Linked DNA regions of Homo sapiens: region 1 is linked to region 2. Evidence: fine-mapped expression QTL. A gene starts in region 2. The other region holds a variant in brackets. All regions are shown on one strand. Distances are between the middles of the regions.

What was found. PIP is the estimated chance that this variant, and not a neighbour inherited with it, causes the effect.
Region 1: its variant is fine-mapped to the expression of PNMA8B in whole blood (INTERVAL, PIP above 0.99).

The regions. Positions count from the first base shown.
Region 1 is chr19:46,464,039-46,474,038 of GRCh38, reverse strand. PNMA8A (PNMA family member 8A) reads left to right here and starts at 2,476. Exons shown (of 3, transcript NM_018215.4): 1 at 2,476-2,702; 2 at 2,925-4,306; 3 at 5,462-7,536. The coding sequence starts at 3,004. The coding sequence ends at 5,478. The variant A/T (reference allele first, on the strand shown) is at 5,942.
Region 2 is chr19:46,492,404-46,502,333 of GRCh38, reverse strand. It overlaps PNMA8B (PNMA family member 8B), which reads left to right and starts at 6,467. Exons shown (of 1, transcript NM_020709.3): 1 at 6,467-9,930. The coding sequence starts at 6,869. The coding sequence ends at 8,776.

The DNA of each region.
Region 1 (10,000 bases), 28 kb after region 2:
CTGCACTCCAGCCTGGGCGACAGAGCGAGACTCTGTCTCAAAAAAGAAAAAAAAAAAGTGTTCCAGTGAATGAGGAAGAAGCTGCGTGCCCTTCTGTAACATAGTCTGAGAAGCCACATAGCTTCCTTTCCACTAAACTCCATTGGTTAAAGTAGTCACAAGTCTGCTCAGATTCACGAGGAGGGGACACAGATCGTCACTTCTCAATAGAAGTGTCGGAGAATTTATGGCTATGTTTTTAAACCACTGCCTAAAAATATACACTCATTCTTCCACTGATATGTAGAATTTCAACATATAAAGCACATGAGATTTAAAGACTTTAATCATAGCTAGAGTGTTTATTGGAATATTCGGTGTGAATTATGTGAATAATCAGAGGTTAACGATTTGAATGACACAACTTTTTAGCACAAAATATGATGGAAACTTGGGCAATCACACAAGTATTGATGATGCCCAAATTTAGGAATGCCAGAGATGACAGTGAAATGAACATTTGGCTATTTGGCCTTGCAAATGTCAGTTTCAAAAATGAACCCAAAGAACAGATTTTGGTTGAATACCAAGGCCCAAATTGTACTTCCATGCATCTTTCAGATGAGATCCCCCCGAATCTTCAAAACTTCCAAATCAGGAAGATTTTTTATTAGAATTCCTATTACAGAGAAAAGAAATAAGCTCAGCGGGGTCAAATTATTTCTCTAAGATCACACAGCCAGGAAGGGACATTGGTAGGTGGATCAGTGAGGGACTGGCAAAAAAAAAAAAAAAAAAACAGATGGCCAGTCCAACCGAGTCTCATAGGAGTGCTTAATTAATTAGTTTATTTTTTTTGAGACAGGGTCTCCTGGGTTCAAGCAATCCTCCCACCTCAGCCTCCCGAATAGCTGAGACCACAGGTGACCCCTATCACACCTGGCTAATTTTTTGCGTTTTTGGTAGGGACGGGGTTTTGCCATGTTGCCCAGGATGGTCTCGAACTCCCCAGCTCAAGTGATCCGCCCTCCTCAGCCTCCCAAAGTGTTGGGATTACATGCGTGAGCCACAGCACTGGGCATTAATAAACTATTAACAAAGTTCTTGCTCATGGGCAGCAAGGTTGAGGTAGGAGGCCCAGGGGACTCCACTGAGGATCACATTGAAGACTGGCCAAAACCTGGAAAAGGCACCGAAAGCCTCTCTCCATAAGACATGCCTGCCAGCACCATGACAGTTTACCATTGCCATGGCAACACCCATAAGTTACTGCCAATTTGCTAATTCTGAAAACCCACCCCTTAATTAGCACGTCATTAAAAGTGGGTATAAATGTGACTGCAGCCTTGCCCCGAGGTGCTATTCTCAGCACACTGCCTAGAGGGTAGCCCTCCTTGTTAGGTTTTGGAGGGAAGGTGAGGGTTAAAGACACACAGACAGAAGGCGGCTCAACAGCAACTCAGGTATACTGCAGACACCTGTGGAAGTGGGTAACCAGCCTAATGCCAGAGCCCACTGCTGCTTATAGGCTGGGGGTACTTATAGTTATGGGTGGGAGGGGTCTGAGCAGTATGGTTTGCTGCCCAGCAGGATGTTGATAAGATGGTTCCATGATGAGGCGGTTCTGGCCCTTGTTCTGGTGGAATGTGGTGTTCTCTGCACTTTCTCCCAGCAGAATATGATAGGGATGTTTCTTCAGTTGGGCCTTTGCACGATAGGGTATGATAATGTTTCTTTAGCTGGGCCTTTGTCCGCCTTGTGGTCAGGTGATTAGGCAGGATGTTTCTCATTGGCCCGAACCCCCGTGGAATATTTCACTTTGACCAAGATCTGCAAAATAGTCAGGGCTTACAAAATGGTTGCAGTTTGGACTAACACTTCTCTGTAGGGGCAGTCACTGAGCTGTAACATTGTCCCCTGCCTGGAGGATGCCAAGAACCTGCCCTGAATCACGTTGAGGAAACAAGAAAAGGCGAGGCATTATCCTCATGCTAGAAGGGGTCGGGGAGGAGACTAAGAAATTTCTAGAAGTTTCTGGAAATTCCTGGAAGAACCCAGCAGCTTGTAAGAGAGAAGGCTACAAGCCCAACAGGAACTGCACCTGCTGTTGGAGGAACCCAAGAAGATTAAAGCCTCGTTTTCCTCCTTTCTTGATTTCTAGTGTCTCCCAAGAGTTGCGTTGGGTGAATCCAACAGGTGGGGCAGAGGATAATACAGTCAGTGGGTGCAGCCATAGGTGTTGGCGCTTCTCATCGACCTAACCCCCGTTCGCGAGGCCCACTTGGGTTGAAAGAGGGCCTCCGTGGAGGCGCCACCGGAGTGTATCCAGACCCGCTTGCTCTGCGACCTGAACAGGCCACTCTTGCACCCGGCTCCCTAGGTCCAATTGCAGCGCCGGCGCGCCGGCCGGGCTCAGCCCTAGCAACCCACGCCCGGTTGCCATGGAGACGTCGGCACCTGCGCAGCCCAAGACCCCCGAGCGGCGGTGCGGGAGCCAGTGCGCAGGCGCGCGCTGCGACGCCAACCTCGGCTTCTCGCCGCTAACGGCATCGAGTCTGGACGCCCCGTGACCCGCCTGGGCCGGAGCGGGGGCGGACGGCGCCTTCTTGGCCCTTTCTGCCTCTAGCAGCGGCGCCGGGGTAGCCGGAGCCAGCGACTGGGAAACGGCTGCATTCCACTGCGTCTCCTTGGCCTGGCTGGGCGGTCGGAGGCTGATCTGCCAAGTAAGTCCCGGCTGGGCAGGCGGAGCGTCAGGCCCGGGGGAGGGTCCTAGGGCCTTTTGCTGCAGATTCAGGGACACGTGTGAGCACCGGGGCCTGGGTTGGGGAGGAGGGTGTTGGGAAAGCGCCAGGCCTCCTGCAGGCCAGCCGCGGAGGGGGCAGCTAGGATCTGTGAGCTTGGTCATCTTCCTGGGAACGTGACCTCGCTCCCTTGTCACCTTGCAGGATTACTGTTTGGAGACCGCTGCAGCCCACGTCCACCTGATAGACTATTTACTACACATAGTAGGTTCAGAGCCGCTAAATGTCCAAGACCATGGCGATGAACCTTCTGGAGGATTGGTGCAGGGGAATGGAAGTGGACATCCACAGGTCCTTGTTGGTCACAGGCATCCCAGAGGACTGTGGGCAGGCAGAAATTGAGGAGACCTTGAATGGGGTCCTCTCCCCACTGGGCCCGTACCGCGTGCTCAACAAGATTTTTGTGAGGGAAGAGAATGTTAAAGCTGCCCTCATTGAGGTTGGTGAAGGTGTGAATCTGAGCACCATCCCCCGTGAATTCCCAGGAAGGGGTGGTGTCTGGAGAGTGGTCTGTAGAGACCCTACCCAGGATGCCGAGTTTTTAAAAAATCTGAATGAATTCCTGGATGCCGAGGGGCGCACCTGGGAGGATGTGGTCCGCCTGCTCCAGCTCAACCACCCCACCCTGTCCCAGAACCAGCATCAGCCCCCAGAGAACTGGGCAGAAGCTCTGGGGGTGCTTCTGGGAGCAGTGGTGCAGATCATCTTCTGCATGGATGCCGAGATCCGCAGCCGGGAGGAAGCCAGGGCCCAGGAGGCCGCTGAATTCGAGGAGATGGCAGCCTGGGCTTTAGCAGCAGGGAGGAAGGTGAAGAAAGAACCGGGGCTTGCAGCAGAGGTGGGTTCTGCCTTAAAGGCAGAGACCCCCAACAACTGGAATGCCACGGAAGACCAGCATGAGCCTACCAAACCTTTGGTTCGCAGGGCTGGAGCTAAGTCTCGCTCCAGGAGAAAGAAGCAGAAGAAGAACTCCAGGCAGGAAGCAGTGCCCTGGAAAAAACCCAAAGGCATCAATTCCAACAGCACAGCTAACTTGGAGGATCCTGAGGTGGGTGATGCTGAAAGCATGGCGATCTCAGAGCCGATCAAGGGCAGCAGAAAGCCCTGTGTGAATAAGGAGGAGTTGGCTTTGAAGAAGCCCATGGCGAAATGTGCCTGGAAGGGTCCCAGAGAGCCACCTCAGGATGCCCGGGCAGAAGCCGAGAGCCCAGGAGGCGCCTCTGAGTCAGACCAAGATGGTGGCCATGAAAGCCCACCAAAGAAGAAGGCCGTGGCCTGGGTGTCTGCCAAGAACCCCGCTCCCATGAGGAAGAAGAAGAAGGTGAGCTTGGGCCCTGTCTCCTACGTCTTGGTTGACTCAGAAGATGGCAGGAAGAAGCCGGTGATGCCAAAGAAAGGGCCAGGCTCAAGAAGGGAGGCATCAGATCAGAAGGCCCCTCGGGGCCAGCAGCCTGCCGAGGCAACAGCCTCAACCTCTAGGGGTCCGAAGGCCAAGCCAGAAGGCTCTCCTCGGCGTGCCACCAATGGTGAGAATGATAGCAGAAGTGACTGGGCTCGTGCCAGCAAGTGGATGAGGCAGGAGGAGCAGGAGTGGCAGGTGGGGCAGAGGAGCCCGAGGAGGTGGTGGGTCAAGCGGGTGATGAGGAGGACCCTGGTGCATGGCAGGAGGTGGATGACACACCAGTTGAGGAGGGTAAGAGCCCAGACCGCCCTTCCAGGAGCCCCTGAAGGCCGATGCTGGAGACATCTGGTGGGCAGGAGGTGGCAGAGGAAACCCACAATGAGTGTCACTGTGGTCATTTGCCACTCCATCTGACCCATCTTCCTTGATGAGAATTTAATGGTTTGGGCCCAGGCTTGGTGGCTCATGCCTGTAATCCCAGCACTTTGGGAAGCCAAGGTGGGCAGATCGCCTGAGGTCAGGAGTTCAAGACCAGCCTGGCCAACATGGTGAAACCCCGTCTCTACTAAAAATACAAAAAATTAGCCGGGTGTGGTGCCACATACCTGTAATCCCAGCTACTCGGGAGGCTGAGGCAGGAGAATCTCTTGAACCCGGGAGGTGGAGGTTGCAGTGAGCCTAGATTGTGCCACTGCCCTCCAGCCTGGGTGACGAGAGTGAGACTCTTGTCTCCAAAAAAAAAAAAAAGAATTTAATGATTTGGGAGGCCAAGGCAGACAGATCACCTGAGGTCAGGAGTTCGAGACCAGCCTGGCCAACATGGTGAAACCCCATCTCTACTAAAAATACAAAAATTAGCTGGGCATGGTGGTTTGTGCCTGTAATCCCAGCTACTGGGGAGGCCAAGGCCTGGGATTGGCCTCCAGACATCTGCCCACCAGATGTCTCCAGCATCGGCCTTCAGGGGCTCCTGGAAGGGCGGTCTGGGCTCTTACCCTCCCTGAACCTGGGAGGTGGAGGTTGCAGGGAGCCAAGATCACACTGCTGCACTCCAGCCTGGGCGATAGAGTGAAACCCTGTTCCCCCCTCCCCCCAAAAAAAATATTAATACTTTGGAGTTATGGTGTTTGCAGGGTATGTGGCTTTAAGGGTGAAGTTTTCTAGAGACCTGGCTGGGGAATAGAAATGTTCAGGGACCCAGAAATTTCTTGGAAGTAATGCATTTCCTAATGACACCTCTCTGCTTCCCTTCTTGATCTGTTCTCTCATTTATTTGCAGAATCCAGAAAGGTTTGATCTGGGGGACCACCCATACTGAGGAGTTGAAAGAACAAGGAAGAAGTACCAAGTCAACCAAGTTCTCTCTTGTCACTGAATAAGACTTTGGACTCTCTTAGGGCCCCTGTTGATAGAGATCTGGCCCTGAGGTAAACGATAGGTGAGGTCTTGGGTGGGAGGGAGTTGGGGAAGGGAGGTGGATCTCTATGCCCTTTTCTCTACCAGGCCTGCCGTTTCACCGCCTTCTCTACTCACCTTCTCTTCGGAGGCAGGAGAGTTGGTAAGAGGATTGGGAAAATTCTAGAACATTCATTCCCCTTTATGCATGAGCAGGGTCACTGTTACACTCATCCATGTTCAGCTTTTCTCCCCCACGCCTTGCTCCCTCCTCGGAATGGTCAGCGACCTCTGCAGGCCCTGGCATTTGGAAGAGCTGGGTGGCCCTGCCATATTCTTCCTCCCGCCTTCCTCTCGTGTAACC[A/T]GCGGGGTAAGTTAAGCCAGGACCTTCGCTGCAAACCTGGTTTTATTGCTCCTTCAGTCTCCAGCTTCCATCCTCCAGTTATCTAGCCAGGAGGTCCCAAGAGTTAGTTTTAGGGAAAAAGAATGTCTGCCTAGACCTCAAAGTCTTTGAGTTTTAGAGTCTGTTAGTAAAAATGGCACTTTGATTCCCATTTGGGATGAGCCCTCTCAGGAATCCTGTGGGGAAGGGGGGTGATTATAGGGAAGGACGCAGGCATTCCTAGGTCCCCAGCTCTAATTCCATCCATCTACCCAACTGTCACCATCTTTGCACCAAACTGTCACCATCTTTGCAGCAGAAGGTCACTACTCACATTATAGTAAGAGGGGAAAAAAATCTTTTAAAACTTGGCTGTTGGCCGGGCACGGTGGCTCACGCCTGTAATCCCAGCACTTTGGGAGGCTGAGGCAGGTCGATCACGAGGTCAGGCGTTTAAGACCAGCTTGACCAACATGGTGAAACCCCATCTCTACAAAAATTAGCTGGGCGTGGTGGCGCGCGCCTGTAATCCCAGCTACTCAGGAGGCTGAGGCAGATGAATTGCTTGAATCCAGGAGGCAGAGGTTGCAATGAGCCGAGATTGTGCCACGGCACTCCAGCCTGGGCAGCAGAGTGAGACTCTCTCTCAAAAAAACAAAACTTGGCTGTTAATGTCTGCCCTCTGAATTCAGACACACTATATTAGACCAGACCACCATGTGTCATTGTGTGTGTGTGTGTGTGTGTTTGCGTGCGCATGTGTAGAGGAGAGAGCAGGGTCCCTGAGATAATGGTTTCCAAACTGTATCGTAGCCGTCCACAAAGATGTAATCCAAATCTATTTTTCTCACGTGTTTAAAAAACTGAAAAGTGACTACTCAGATATGTTGGAAGTCACATCGAAGACTATCAGAATATTACCTTGTGTTCATAGGTTAACTTGTTTTTGTACACGTCTTAGTTATTTCAGGCATCTCTTTGCTTAAAATTGAGTTTCTTGTAAATGTGACTGATGAGCGAGGTTAGAAGTGGAAGAAATTCCTGTGCATGTTCTATAATCTGACACCCTGAAAGCAAGTTTCCTTTCGTCATTCACATGCTCTTGTTCTGCCGTGACTGTTCAGGTGTATGGTAGTAAGTAAATGTATTAACATGGTGAACAGTAGTAATATTCTATCATAGAGTATTAGCCCTTGCAAGTTTTCAGGGCGTCTTTTCCGACTTCAGTTTTTGTGATAAAGAATGTGAACAGTTGTTAGATGTTCTCAGTGATTCAACTTTAAAACAAATTTCTCGTGATGATTCATTTCAAAATCCTGAGTGAGTCTGACTGAAAAATACGAGAGAAAAGAGAGTGGTTTCCGTTTGCAGCTACACAGCTGTGTGCATCGACGTTCTCCTGGGGTGTGTGCCAAGCGAAACCCAGGGGTGAATTGGATTCTTGAAGAGACCAAAGCCTGTAACTGTCCAGCTTCTAATTTCAAAACGGGTCCATTAGGGCTTCGTTGTGTTAACAAGTTGACACCATGACTAGTAAATGTAAACGTGTATGTATAAAATAAAGTTTAGCAAATTAAGTGTCCTGTTAAGTCTCTTGTAGGTGAGGATTGCATGGACTATTAAATTTGAGGAAAGGGTTCCCCTTTCCTCAAACAGTGCCCCCAGCCAGATGTGACTGGTTATCAGATACGGGTTCAAGCTTTGAGAATTGTTAATGATCCATGAGAGAAGAAGCCGTTTGTCCTCTTTGCGAATGGCTTTCCACTGATGTGGAAGGATGTCCCACAGATCTTGGGGTTTCTAGAATAGGTATCTGGTGACGCAAATTACCTCAAAGTACCAGTTTATTTTTTTATAAACAGCTGGAAAATGAAAACCTTTCCCTCCCTTCCTATTCCCTCACACAGAAGCCAAGGTCTTTTTTTTTTTTTTTTTTTGAGATGGAGTTTCGCTCTGTCACCCAGGTGGGAGTGCAGTGGCACAGTCTCAGCCCACTGCAGCCTCTACCTCCTGGGCTCAAGTGATCTGCCCACCTCGGCCTCCCAAAGCGTTGGGATTACAGGTGTAAGCCACCATGCCAAGCCAGAAGCTGAGGTCTTTTAGCTAAAAATATAGTTTTCTTCTGGCCCTCCCCTGCCCCTCCCCAGGAACTCCTGAACCAGGGTGGCCACTACATCAGTCACTTGGAATCTGTTCAAGGTACCATTTCGTGGCTCTACCTGCTGATTCAGGATCTCTTCGGGGTTGTACATAGTTATCTGCGTCTTAAACAGTTTCTCCTGAGAATTTTTTTTTTTTTTTTTTGAGACGGAGTCTCGCTCTGTCTCCTAGGCTGGAGTGCAGTATCATGATCTCAGCTCACTGCAACCTCTGCCTCCCGGGTTCAAGCGATTCTCCTGCCTCAGCCTCCCAAGTAGCTGGGACTACAGGGGTGCGCCACCACGCCCAGCTAATATTTTTGTATTTTTTTTAGTAGAGATGGAGTTTCACCATGTTGGCCAGGATGGCCTCGATCTCTGATCTCTTGACCTCGTGATCCGCCCACCTCAGCCTCCCAAAGTGCTGGGATGACAGGCGTGAGCCACCACGCCCAGCCAAGAATTCTATTAATAATACAGGTTGGAGAGCTTCAGGTGGAATAATTCAGACTTGGGGAAACGGAAGTGTCCTTAGGGGTCCAGGTTGAGGTTTTGTGAAAGTGAATGGAGATTATGAGGAAAGATGCGAAAGAGACCAAAAGGGAAGCTGGGATTTGAGGACGCGGAGCTCGTTAGGAACTGCCGTGTACTCATAGAAGCATCTGGATGAAGCTCTATTTATTGGGTGCCCCCACACCCCCACAATGGGAAAAGCCCTATTTGACCAAGATGTTTAAGTACCTCCCACAATAATAGTCACTCCTACTGGTTACACCCAGGCTGTCAGTAAAGTATGAAAGGCCTACGTGCCCTAAAAATGGGGGGAATCCAAGGTTGGGGCACATGAAAGCTCTCTTCAAAGAAACCTCATCGCCCCGGGTGGAGGTGTTCTGTTCAGGGGTGCGTCTGGGGAGGCGCTGGCCCGGAGTGTTTGCAGGAAGATGGAGAGCTGTGGATGCCACCAGCAGGGCTCGAGGGCAAAGTGTCCTGGTTGCCCATGCTGCCATTCAAGCAAGGTTCGTTGAGAATCTGCTGTACGACAGCCAGGAGCAAGACAGAGTCCTGGCTTCCTGGAGCCTGACGTTTGAGTGAGGACAGACCTTATATAGACACAGGTGGAGGGGTGGGGAGCTCTGCCGTGAAAAATATAACAGGAAGATAGGCAGGCAAGGTGAGTGTGCAGAAACGGCTGGCTGTCGCTTACAATGGTTGGGGGAGCCTCTCTGGGAACTGGATGTCTGAACAGACCTGAAGGGGGTGAGGGGTGAGACAAGCAGTTGGCCAAGAACGGCCTCCTGGGCAGAGGGAACAGTCATCGTGGAGGGAGGCTCTAATCTGTTTCAGAAAGTGAGTAAGGCTGGGCGCAGTGGCTCACACCTGTAATCCCAGCACTTTGGGAGGCCAAGGCGGGCAGATCACCTGAGGTCAGGAGTTCAAGACCAGCCTGGCCAACATGGTGAAACCCCATCTCTACTAAAAATACAAAAAAATTAGCCAGGTGTGATGGCGCGTGCCTGTGGTCCCAGCTACTTGGGAGGCTGAGGCAGGAGAATTGCTTGAACCCAGGAGGTTGAGACTGCAGTGAGCTGAGATCGCACCACTGCACTCCAGCCTGGGCGACAGAGCAAGACTCTGTCTCAAAAAAATAAAAATAAAAAAGCAAGGAGGAGGTGAGGAGCAAGAGGGCAGGGGGCTTTGGAGGCTGGTGTGCAAAGCCCCACAGGTGCGGCCAGGATGGATTCCAGCTTTAATCTGAGAGATGGGAGCCATGGGAGGGTGCTGAACACAGCGTCAGGATCCTACATAGGTTGTTTCCAGGCTCCCCCTGGAAGCCTGGTGGGGAACAGACTGCAGAGGGTGAGGTGGCAGCTGGGAGCCTAGTGGGGAGGTGACAGTAGCTGGA
Region 2 (9,930 bases):
TACAGGCGTGAGCCACCACGCCCGGCCTTGAACGCTTTACGCCCTTTCTTCCAGCTGTTTCCATTGGAACCTTACAGGCAGTGGCTTGGTCAGTCATAGGCTCATCTCTGCCTAAGAAGAGATCATGATTCCAGGGGAAATGCCCAGGGCGGGACTGGGCAGGACATGTTGGGGATCCTGATGTCCCTGCCTGGCTGGTCCCTGTAAGATCTTCTGTGCACAGGGCTTGGGGTTCATAGTCTATCCTTTTTTTTTTTTTTCTTTTTTTTTGAGACAGGGTCTTACTCTGTCATCCAGGCTGGAGTGCAGTGGCTCAGTCATGGCTCACTGCAGCCTCGACCTGGCAGGCCCAAGCAATCCTCCCACCTCAGCCTCCTGAGTAGCTGGGATTACAGGCACCTGCCAACATGACCAGCTAATTTTTCTTTTCTTTTTTTTTTTTTCAGACGGGAGTCTCACTCTGTTGCCCAGGCTGGAGTGCAGTGGCGCAATCTCGGCTCACTGCAAGCTCTGCCTCCCGGGTTCACACCATTCTCCTGCCTCAGCCTCCCAAGTGGCTGGGACTACAGGTGCCCACCACCACACCTGGCTAATTTTGCGTATTTTTAGTAGAGACGGGGTTTCACTGTGTTAGCCAGGATGGTCTTGATCTCCTGACCTCATGATCCACCCACTTCAGCCTCCCAAAGTGCTGGGATTACAGGCATGAGCCACCATGCCTGGCCATGACCAGCTAATTTTGGTATTTTTGGTAGAGATGGGGTTTCACCATGTTGGGCAGGCTGGTCTTGAACTCCTGGCCTCAAGTGATCTGCCTGCCTTAACCTCCCAAAGTGCTGGGATTACAGGTGTGAGCCACCACACACAGCCCAACATATGAATTTTATTTTATTTTATTTTATTTTATTTTATTTTATTTTATTTTATTTATTTATTTAGAGACAGTCATGCCTGTCACCCAGGCTGGAGTTCAGTGGTACAATCTCAGCTCACTGCAACCTCCGCCTTCCAGGTTCAAGCGGTTCTCCTGCCTCAGCCTCCTGAATAGCTGGGATTCCAGCCACTCACCATCACACCTGGCTAATTTTTGTATTTTTAGTAGAGATGGGGTTTCGCCATGTTGGCCAGGCTGGTCTCGAACTCCTGACCACAAGCAATCCACCTGCCTCAGCCTCCCAGAATGATGGGATTACACGCGTGAGCCACCACACCCAGGCTCCAACATATGAATTTTAAAGAGACATAATTCAGCCTCTGTACCTTTGGGTCCTCTTATAAACCAGACGCTCTCCTGGGGAGTCCCCTCTGCATTCCAGCGTGCCACCTCATCCTGTCCCACGGTGAGAATGAAATCTTTGTCCCAGTAACACTCAGGGCCAGGCACTGTTCCAACACACACACACACACACACACACACACACACACACACACACACATCCCGCTTAAATCCTCACAACCTCACGATAAACTGGGGCCACAGAGCCATGAAGAGACAAAGTGACTTGCTTGGTTATTGGGCAAATGTAAAAGACTAACCCGGATGGCACTTTGATCTTGGACTTCCAGACTCTGGAACTGGGAGAAAATAGATTTCTGTTATCTAAGCCATCCAGCCTGTGACACTGTTGAAAAATCAGTCTACAATGATCTGGGTCCAGAACCTAACTCCATTTTAGCACTTACAGCGGCTTTGTGGGAAGTAGGAAAGACTCTTGCTCTGCGTTGACCATTGCTAAAAGCATCCCTTCAGCCCCTCAAATGACTCAACATAGAGTTACCATGTGCCCCGGGATTCCTCTCCTAAAAGTGTCTGCCCAAGAGAAATGAAAACATATGTCTACATAGAAATTTGCACACAGCATATCCATCATGCTCCTATGTTCCTAGCATATTCATGATAGCCCAAAAGTGCAAACAACCCAAATGTCCATCAACTGATGAATGGATAAAGAAAATTTGATTTATCCATTCCATGGAACATTGCTCAGCCATAAAAAGAATGGAGGCTGGGTGCAGTGGCTCACACCTGAAATCCCAGCACTTTAGGAGACCGAGATGGGCAGATGGGCAGGCAAACTCCTGAGGTCAGGAGTTTGAGACCAGCCTGGCCAACATGGTGAAACCCTGTCTGTACTAAAAATACAAAAATAACTGGGTGTGGCGGTGGGTGCCTGTAATCCCAGCTACTCGGGAGGCTGAGGCAGGTGAACTCGGAGAACTCCTTGAACTCGGGAGGCAGAGGTTGCAGTGAGCTGAGATTGTGCCACTGCACCCCAGCCTGGGTGACAGAGCGAGACTCTGTCTCTAAATAAATGGAACAGAGTATTGGATGACACTTGCCACACAACACTGAACAAATGATGCTGAGTGAAAGAAGCCAGACACAAAGGAACAACATATTGTATGACTCCATTCATATGAAATGTCCAGAATGGGGAAGTCCGTAGAGACAGAAAGCAGATTAGTGGTTGCCGGGGGCTGGGGGGAGATTAGAGGGTTGGAGGGTGATGGCTAAGCAGTGTGGGATTTCTTTTTGAGGTGATGAAAATGTTTTAAAATCAATCGTGGTGTTGGTCACACAACTCTGAATGAACTAACAGCCATTGAGTTGTGCACTTTAAATGGGTGGGTTATATGGTATATGAATCTTCATTTTTACAAGAATTTCACCTGTGGTTATCCACAACGACTTAGAAAAGTGTCAGCTTCATCGGGCATGATGGCTCACGCCTGCAATCCCTGCATTTTGGGAGGCCAAGGAAGGAGGATCACTTGAGCCCAGGAGTTTGAGACCAGCCTGGGCAACATAACAAGACCCCATCTCTACAAAAAATAAAATTAGCCAGGCGTGGTGGTGTGCTGCAGTTCCAGCTACTCTGGAGGCTGAGGTGGGAGAGGTGCTTGAAGCCAGGAGTTCAAGACTGCAGTGAGCCATGGTCATGCCACTGCACTCTAGCCTGGGAGACAGCAAGACTCTGACTCTAAAATACACACACACACACACACACACACACACACAAAGTGCAAGCTTCCTGTTTCTCTTTTTGTTGTGTTTTCCAATCTTGCAGTTATAAATAACAGTTGTGCTGAGTGTATTCACACACACACACACTCTCTCTCTCTCTCTCTCTCCCCCTAATTAATTCTTGCAAACAAATTCCCAATGGCCCTGTGTGGCTGCTGAGCCCTTGAAATACGGCTACTCCAAAGGGACTCATTATGAAAAGAGAGTGTCTGATAGCTCATAAATAATTGTTTTACATTGACAACTTGTGCAAATGACAACACTTTGTATATTTCGGGATAAATAATATATATTCTTTATTTTCTTTTTCTTTTTCCTTTTCCTTTTTTTTTTTTTTTTTTTTTTTTTTTTTTTTTTTTTTTTTGAGACAGGGTCATTCTCTTGCCCAAGCTGGAGTGCAGTGTAGCATGATCATCTCTCACTTCAGCCTTGATCTCCTGGGCTGAAGCAATCCTCCTACCTCAGCTTCCTGAGTATCAGGGACTACAGATGTGTGTCACTAAGCCTGGCTAACTTTTGTATTTTTTGTAGAGACGAGGTTTTGCCATGTTGGCCAGGCCGGTCTCAAACTCCTGGGCTCAAGTGATCTGCCTGCCTCGGCCTCCCAAAGTGCTGGGATTACAGGCGTGAGCCACTGCGCCTGGCCAAAATCTATTCTTAAAATTCATTTTTCTTCCCTCTTTTCTATTTATTGAAGGTGGCCCCCTAGGAAATTTTGTATTTTTTGTAGAGATAGGTTTTCACCATGTTGCCCGGGCTGGTCTCGAACTCCTAACCTCAAGTGATCTGCCCGCCTCAGCCTCTGAAAGTGCTGGGATTACAGGATTACATGGTGAGTCACCATATTTCTTCTTTTTTTAGATCAATAGATGCAGAAAAAGCAGCTCGTTTTTTGTTTTGTTTTGGTTTGGTTTGGTTTGGTTTGGTTTGGTTTTTTTGAGACAGCGTCTTGCTCTGTCTCCCAGGCTGGAGTGCAGTGGCGCAATCTCGGCTCAATGCAACAACCTCTGCCTCCCAGGTTCATGTGATTCTCCTGCCTCAGCCTCCAAGTAGCTGGGATTACAGGCGTGCGCTACCATGCCCAGCCTAGATTGGAGATTCAAATGTCAAAAATGACACTTTGTAATCCCAGCACTTTGGGAGGCTGAGGTGGGTGGACCACCTGAGGTCAGTGTTGGCTGGCTGCAACTAGGAGTTTTAACATTGCACGTGCGGTTCGAATTTGGGGCTGGCATTCTATTCCTGCTGGACAACGCTGCTCTGGAGAAAAGAGTCACATCACATCCATCTGTGGATCAGGAAGATCAGAGGAGGAAAAAGTGGGGGAAAATAGGAGTGAGTAAGCGGTTTGCCCAGTTGCTGTGGTAACCTTGCAGTTAAACTCTCCTTAAACATAAAAAAATCCAAACACAAAAGTAAGGGGTTGGGCCTGGTGGCAAAAACAAAAAACTCGAGGTGTTTTGGTTTCCTATTTATTTGTTTATTAACAGATGCTTTGGGCTGAGCACGGTGGCTCGTGCCTGTAATCCCAGCACTTTGGGAGGCCGACGCCGGCAGATCACCCGAGGTCAGGAGTTCCAGACCAGCCTGGCCAACATGGTGAAAATCCATCTACTAAAAATACAAAACTAGGCCGGGCACGGTGGCTCACACCTGTAATCCCAGCACTTTGGGAGGCCGAGGCGGGCGGATCACGAGGTTGGGAGTTTGAGACAAGGTTGCCCAACATAGTGAAACCCCGTCTCTACTAAAAATACAAAAAATTAGCTGGGCGTGGTGGCGGGCACCTGTAATCTCAGCTACTTGGGAGGCTGAGGCTGGAGAATGGTTTGAAGCCGGGAGGCGGAGGTTGCAGTGAACCAAGATCACGCCACTGCCCTCCAGCCTGAGTGACAGTGCGAGACTCTCTCTCAAACAAACAAACAAACAAAAAACTAGTCAGGCATGGTGGTGCATGCCTGTAGTCCCAGTTACTCGGGAGGCTGAGGCAGGAGAATGGCTTTAACCCGGGTGGTGGAGGTTGCAGTGAGCCGAGATTGCTCCATTGCACTCCAGCCTGGGCGACAGAGCAAGACTCCATCTCAAAAACAAACCAACAAAACAGATGCTTTTATAATGGTAAGTTCTCAACAAATACTTCTCTTAGCCATCTTTCATGGAGCACCAGCTGTGGGCCAGCTGCTCTTCTAAATGCTTTCCTGGATTATTCCCTTTAATCCTCATGAGAACCCTTTGAGGCCAGGCATGGTGGCTCACCATGTAATCCTGTAATCCCAGCACTTTCAGAGGCTGAGGCGGGCAGATCACTTGAGGTTAGGAGTTTGAGACCAGCCTGGGTAACATGGTAAAAACCCATCTCTACAAAAAATACAAAAACTTGCCAGACGTGATGGTGTATGCCTATAATCCCAGCTACTTGGGAGGCCTGTCATCCTTGCTACTCAGGAGGCTGAGGCAGGAGAACCGCTTGAACATGGGAGGCGGAAGTTGCAGTGAACCAAGATTGTGCCATTGCACTCCAGCCTGAGTGACAGAGCAAGACTCCATCTCCAAAACAAACAACAACAAAAAAACAAAACCCTTTGAGGTAGGGATGATGGTTGAGATATAAACCTACCAGCTGGTCTACAGAGCCAGATTCATATAGAGTAGGGGACAGCCTCATGGCCAACAAGGGACAGAGAAGCAAATGCATGTTTACAGTAGCTATGACTGACGTTCACACGCCCCAGTCTGCTGTCCCAGTCAAGGGAAATGCTTTCTTGCAAAATTCATGCCTGGTCTCACAATCATACATATGCTCAAAGCGTGTGCAAAACCACAGGATTTATTGTGCATGCATAGTTCAGAATACAGGAACGTGTATGGGAGTGAGGGCCGGTCCCATCGAGTGGGGCCTGTACCCTGCAAGTGAGGCCCATATACCCTGAATGGTGTCTTGCTCACAGGTGGTGCCTGGGCCCCCCTATTTGATACTGAGACCCATATACTGTGAATGAGGCCAGTATCCCGAGTAAGTCCTGGTCCTACGCTGCAAGGCCAGTGCCCTTTGATTTAGGCCTATATAATCCTGAATTCCACCTGGCCCCTGGAAGGGGGAATTGTAACCCCCAGTGATGCCGGTACCCTCTGGAAGGAGGCCTCTATCCCCTGAATGAGGTCGGGTATCCTTGAGTGATTTCTGGCCCTCTGTGGTTTCGGCCTTGTTTTTTGCTGGTTAATGAAAGTGGTGCTTCCAGGCCCCAAGTCCTTGTCATCGGGACCTTTAAGAAAAGCGTCTCAGGCCACAGCGACGCAGACCCCAGCTCAAGGCTGCACCGTTGCCATGGAGACGGTTGGGCGGGGGACAGGGGAGGGTGTGCGGCTCCCTCTGCGCAGGCGCACGCGCGAGCAGCCGCGTCGCAGCGGAACTGCTGAGATTCAGGCCCAGGGTGCGCGCTCAGACGCGGCGCGAGCGCCAGGCAAGCTGCGGCTGCTACCTCCCACGCCTCTCCAGGTGCACTCGGCGCCGCCCCCCTGCACCTGGCTGCGGTGCCGAGTCACTCAGGCCTGTGTCAGGGAGAGAGGGAGGGAGCTGTCCTGGAAAGCAGACACGTAAGCCCCCCGCGGATCCTCAGACAGCTCTGGAGAGGGGTCCCGGGGGAAGGTCACTGCGTCCAGCCGGCCAGCAGGCAGCTAGAGCCCCCGAGCCCCGAGCCCCACTCCAGCCTTGCCACATTCACCGGAACCGGGACTCTAAGCCCTGCAAGTGGCTTTCTAGGGTTGCATTGACACCGTGCGCTGCAGCCCACCCCTATCTCGGGCTCCCTGCTGCCCCAAGATCAGCGCCAAGGGGGCTGCACCATGGCCATGAGCCTTTTGCAGGACTGGTGCCGGAGCCTGGACGTGGACGCGCACAGGGCCCTGCTGGTCACCGGCATCCCGGAGGGCCTGGAGCAGGCAGACGTCGAAGCCGTCCTGCAGCCGACCCTCCTGCCCCTGGGCACGTTCAGGTTGCGACACATGAAGGCTTTGATGAACGAGAAGGCCCAGGCCGCCCTGGTGGAGTTTGTGGAGGACGTCAATCACGCTGCCATTCCCAGGGAGATCCCAGGCAAGGATGGGGTCTGGAGGGTTCTGTGGAAGGACCGTGCGCAGGACACGAGGGTCCTGAGGCAGATGAGACGCCTGCTGCTGGATGACGGGCCCACGCAGGCCGCGGAGGCTGGGACCCCCGGGGAGGCACCCACCCCTCCCGCTTCGGAGACGCAGGCCCAGGATTCTGGGGAGGTAACAGGGCAGGCTGGCTCGCTTCTTGGGGCAGCCAGGAACCCAAGGAGGGGCCGTCGGGGTCGCAGAAACAGAACCAGACGCAACAGGTTGACCCAGAAGGGCAAGAAGAGAAGCCGAGGAGGACGGCCGTCTGCTCCCGCGAGGAGTGAGGCCGAGGACTCTTCCGACGAGAGCCTGGGCATCGTGATCGAGGAGATCGACCAGGGCGACCTGAGCGGAGAAGAGGACCAGAGCGCGCTGTACGCCACGCTGCAGGCCGCTGCCAGGGAGCTGGTTAGGCAGTGGGCGCCCTGCAACTCCGAGGGGGAAGAAGACGGTCCCCGCGAGTTCTTGGCTCTGGTCACCGTCACCGACAAATCGAAGAAAGAAGAGGCAGAGAAGGAGCCAGCTGGGGCCGAATCCATCCGCTTGAACACCAAAGAAGACAAAAATGGTGTCCCCGACTTAGTGGCCCTGCTGGCTGTGAGAGACACCCCGGACGAGGAGCCGGTGGACAGCGACACTTCGGAGAGCGACTCGCAGGAAAGTGGGGACCAAGAAACAGAGGAGTTGGATAATCCTGAGTTCGTGGCCATTGTGGCCTATACCGACCCGTCGGACCCCTGGGCCCGGGAGGAGATGTTGAAAATCGCTTCTGTTATCGAGTCGCTGGGCTGGAGCGACGAGAAAGACAAGCGAGACCCCCTCCGACAGGTCTTGTCCGTCATGTCCAAGGACACTAACGGGACCCGCGTGAAGGTGGAAGAGGCGGGCCGCGAGGTGGACGCCGTGGTCCTGCGCAAGGCCGGGGATGACGGGGACCTCCGGGAGTGCATTTCCACCTTGGCGCAGCCGGATCTCCCTCCCCAGGCGAAGAAGGCTGGGCGTGGCCTCTTCGGGGGCTGGAGCGAGCACCGTGAGGACGAAGGGGGTCTTCTGGAGCTGGTGGCGCTCCTGGCTGCCCAGGACATGGCGGAGGTGATGAAGGAGGAAAAAGAAAACGCCTGGGAAGGCGGGAAGTACAAATACCCCAAAGGCAAACTGGGGGAGGTATTGGCGCTCCTGGCCGCCCGGGAGAACATGGGGTCCAACGAGGGGTCGGAGGAGGCTTCGGACGAACAGTCCGAGGAGGAGTCGGAGGACACCGAGAGCGAGGCGTCGGAGCCGGAGGACAGGGCATCCAGGAAGCCCCGGGCCAAGAGGGCGCGCACGGCCCCCAGGGGCCTGACTCCGGCCGGCGCGCCTCCCACCGCTTCCGGGGCCCGCAAAACCCGCGCGGGCGGCCGAGGCCGAGGCCGGGGCGTCACTCCCGAGAAGAAAGCCGGGAGCCGGGGCTCGGCCCAGGACGACGCCGCAGGAAGCAGGAAGAAGAAGGGGAGCGCGGGCGCCGGGGCCCATGCCAGGGCAGGCGAGGCCAAGGGCCAGGCGCCCACTGGATCCAAGGCCGCGCGCGGGAAGAAGGCCCGTCGGGGCCGGAGGCTGCCCCCTAAATGCCGCTAGTGGCCCCCCAAGAAGCCGCCCAGGCTGCGAGCAGGCCCCGCAGGGCACCCGCCCGCCTGTGGCCCCCGCCCTCCCCTCCCCTCTTCCTGTCCTCCGCAGACGCAATCTCCTCGCTTCACAGCGCGCCCGGGCCGCGTTTTGCCAGCGTCACGTTCCCCTCTCGGGCCCTCGCAGGCCGGGGGCGCCAGCGATCCCGACGGAGGAAGCCCGGATGGGAGGAGGAAAGAGAAGTGGGCGCCCGAGGCAGCAGCGCAGGGCCGAGATGGGGACGCGCCAAGTGGACCAGGATTGGGGGCCCGGGTTGCCCCCGGAGGGGGTGTGTGTGTGGACGCCGGGCACCTGCAGAGGCGAGCAGGGCTCTTCGTGGCGCTCTCGGGGCCTGCGCCTGGCAGGTGCTGTAGGCCGCTGTCGCCCCTACCCCAGTCTGACTGGGCCCTGGGTCTGTGGTGGAGGCTCAGTCACCAGCCGCGCAGCGCGTGTCAGGGCGCAACTCTCAGCCAGGGGAGGCCCCAGCTCCCAGCCAGGGGAAGAGATGATTCCAGAAAGGAAAGTCTGAGAGATAGAAGGCGGTTGGGAAGGGGAGGAGGAGGAAAGGGGAGAGGAACGGTGGGAGAAGGGAAAGAGGAGGAGGAGGGGGAGGGGGGAGCAGAGGGAAGACACATGCCAGCCCTGCCTACTGGGGCGCCCCTGATAACAAAGGAACCAGCCCCAGGCCAAGGCCACCTGCCCCTGACCACAAGTTGAATTTGTCACTCAGACTGCAGTGTTTCCCAACATTCTAATTATTTGCAGAGGTGTTCAATTTGGGGTAATTCACTTAAAATCCAGTTTTGGTTCTTCTGGGCTGAGTGGGCCCTGGCCCCTCCCATAGGCTGTGGCTCCCCTGGGTGCCCCCTCTCCAGTGGAGCTGACCCACCGCTCAGCGCTGGCCTTGCAGCCCTTACTAAAAGACTTGAAAGTCCCTGGGTTCACCCCCTGAGTGAATTAAAGGCCAGAGGGGCCCCGAAGGGCACTGTGAGGGACAGAGGCTCACCTGGGCAGTGCAGAAGCCGGCCGCGTGTCCCTCCTTACAGGGGATGAAATGACCTGGGGAGGAAACCCCAGCCCTGCCCTGGAGGTTCCAGAGTAGGCGGGCCGGTGCTGTGAGGCTTCAC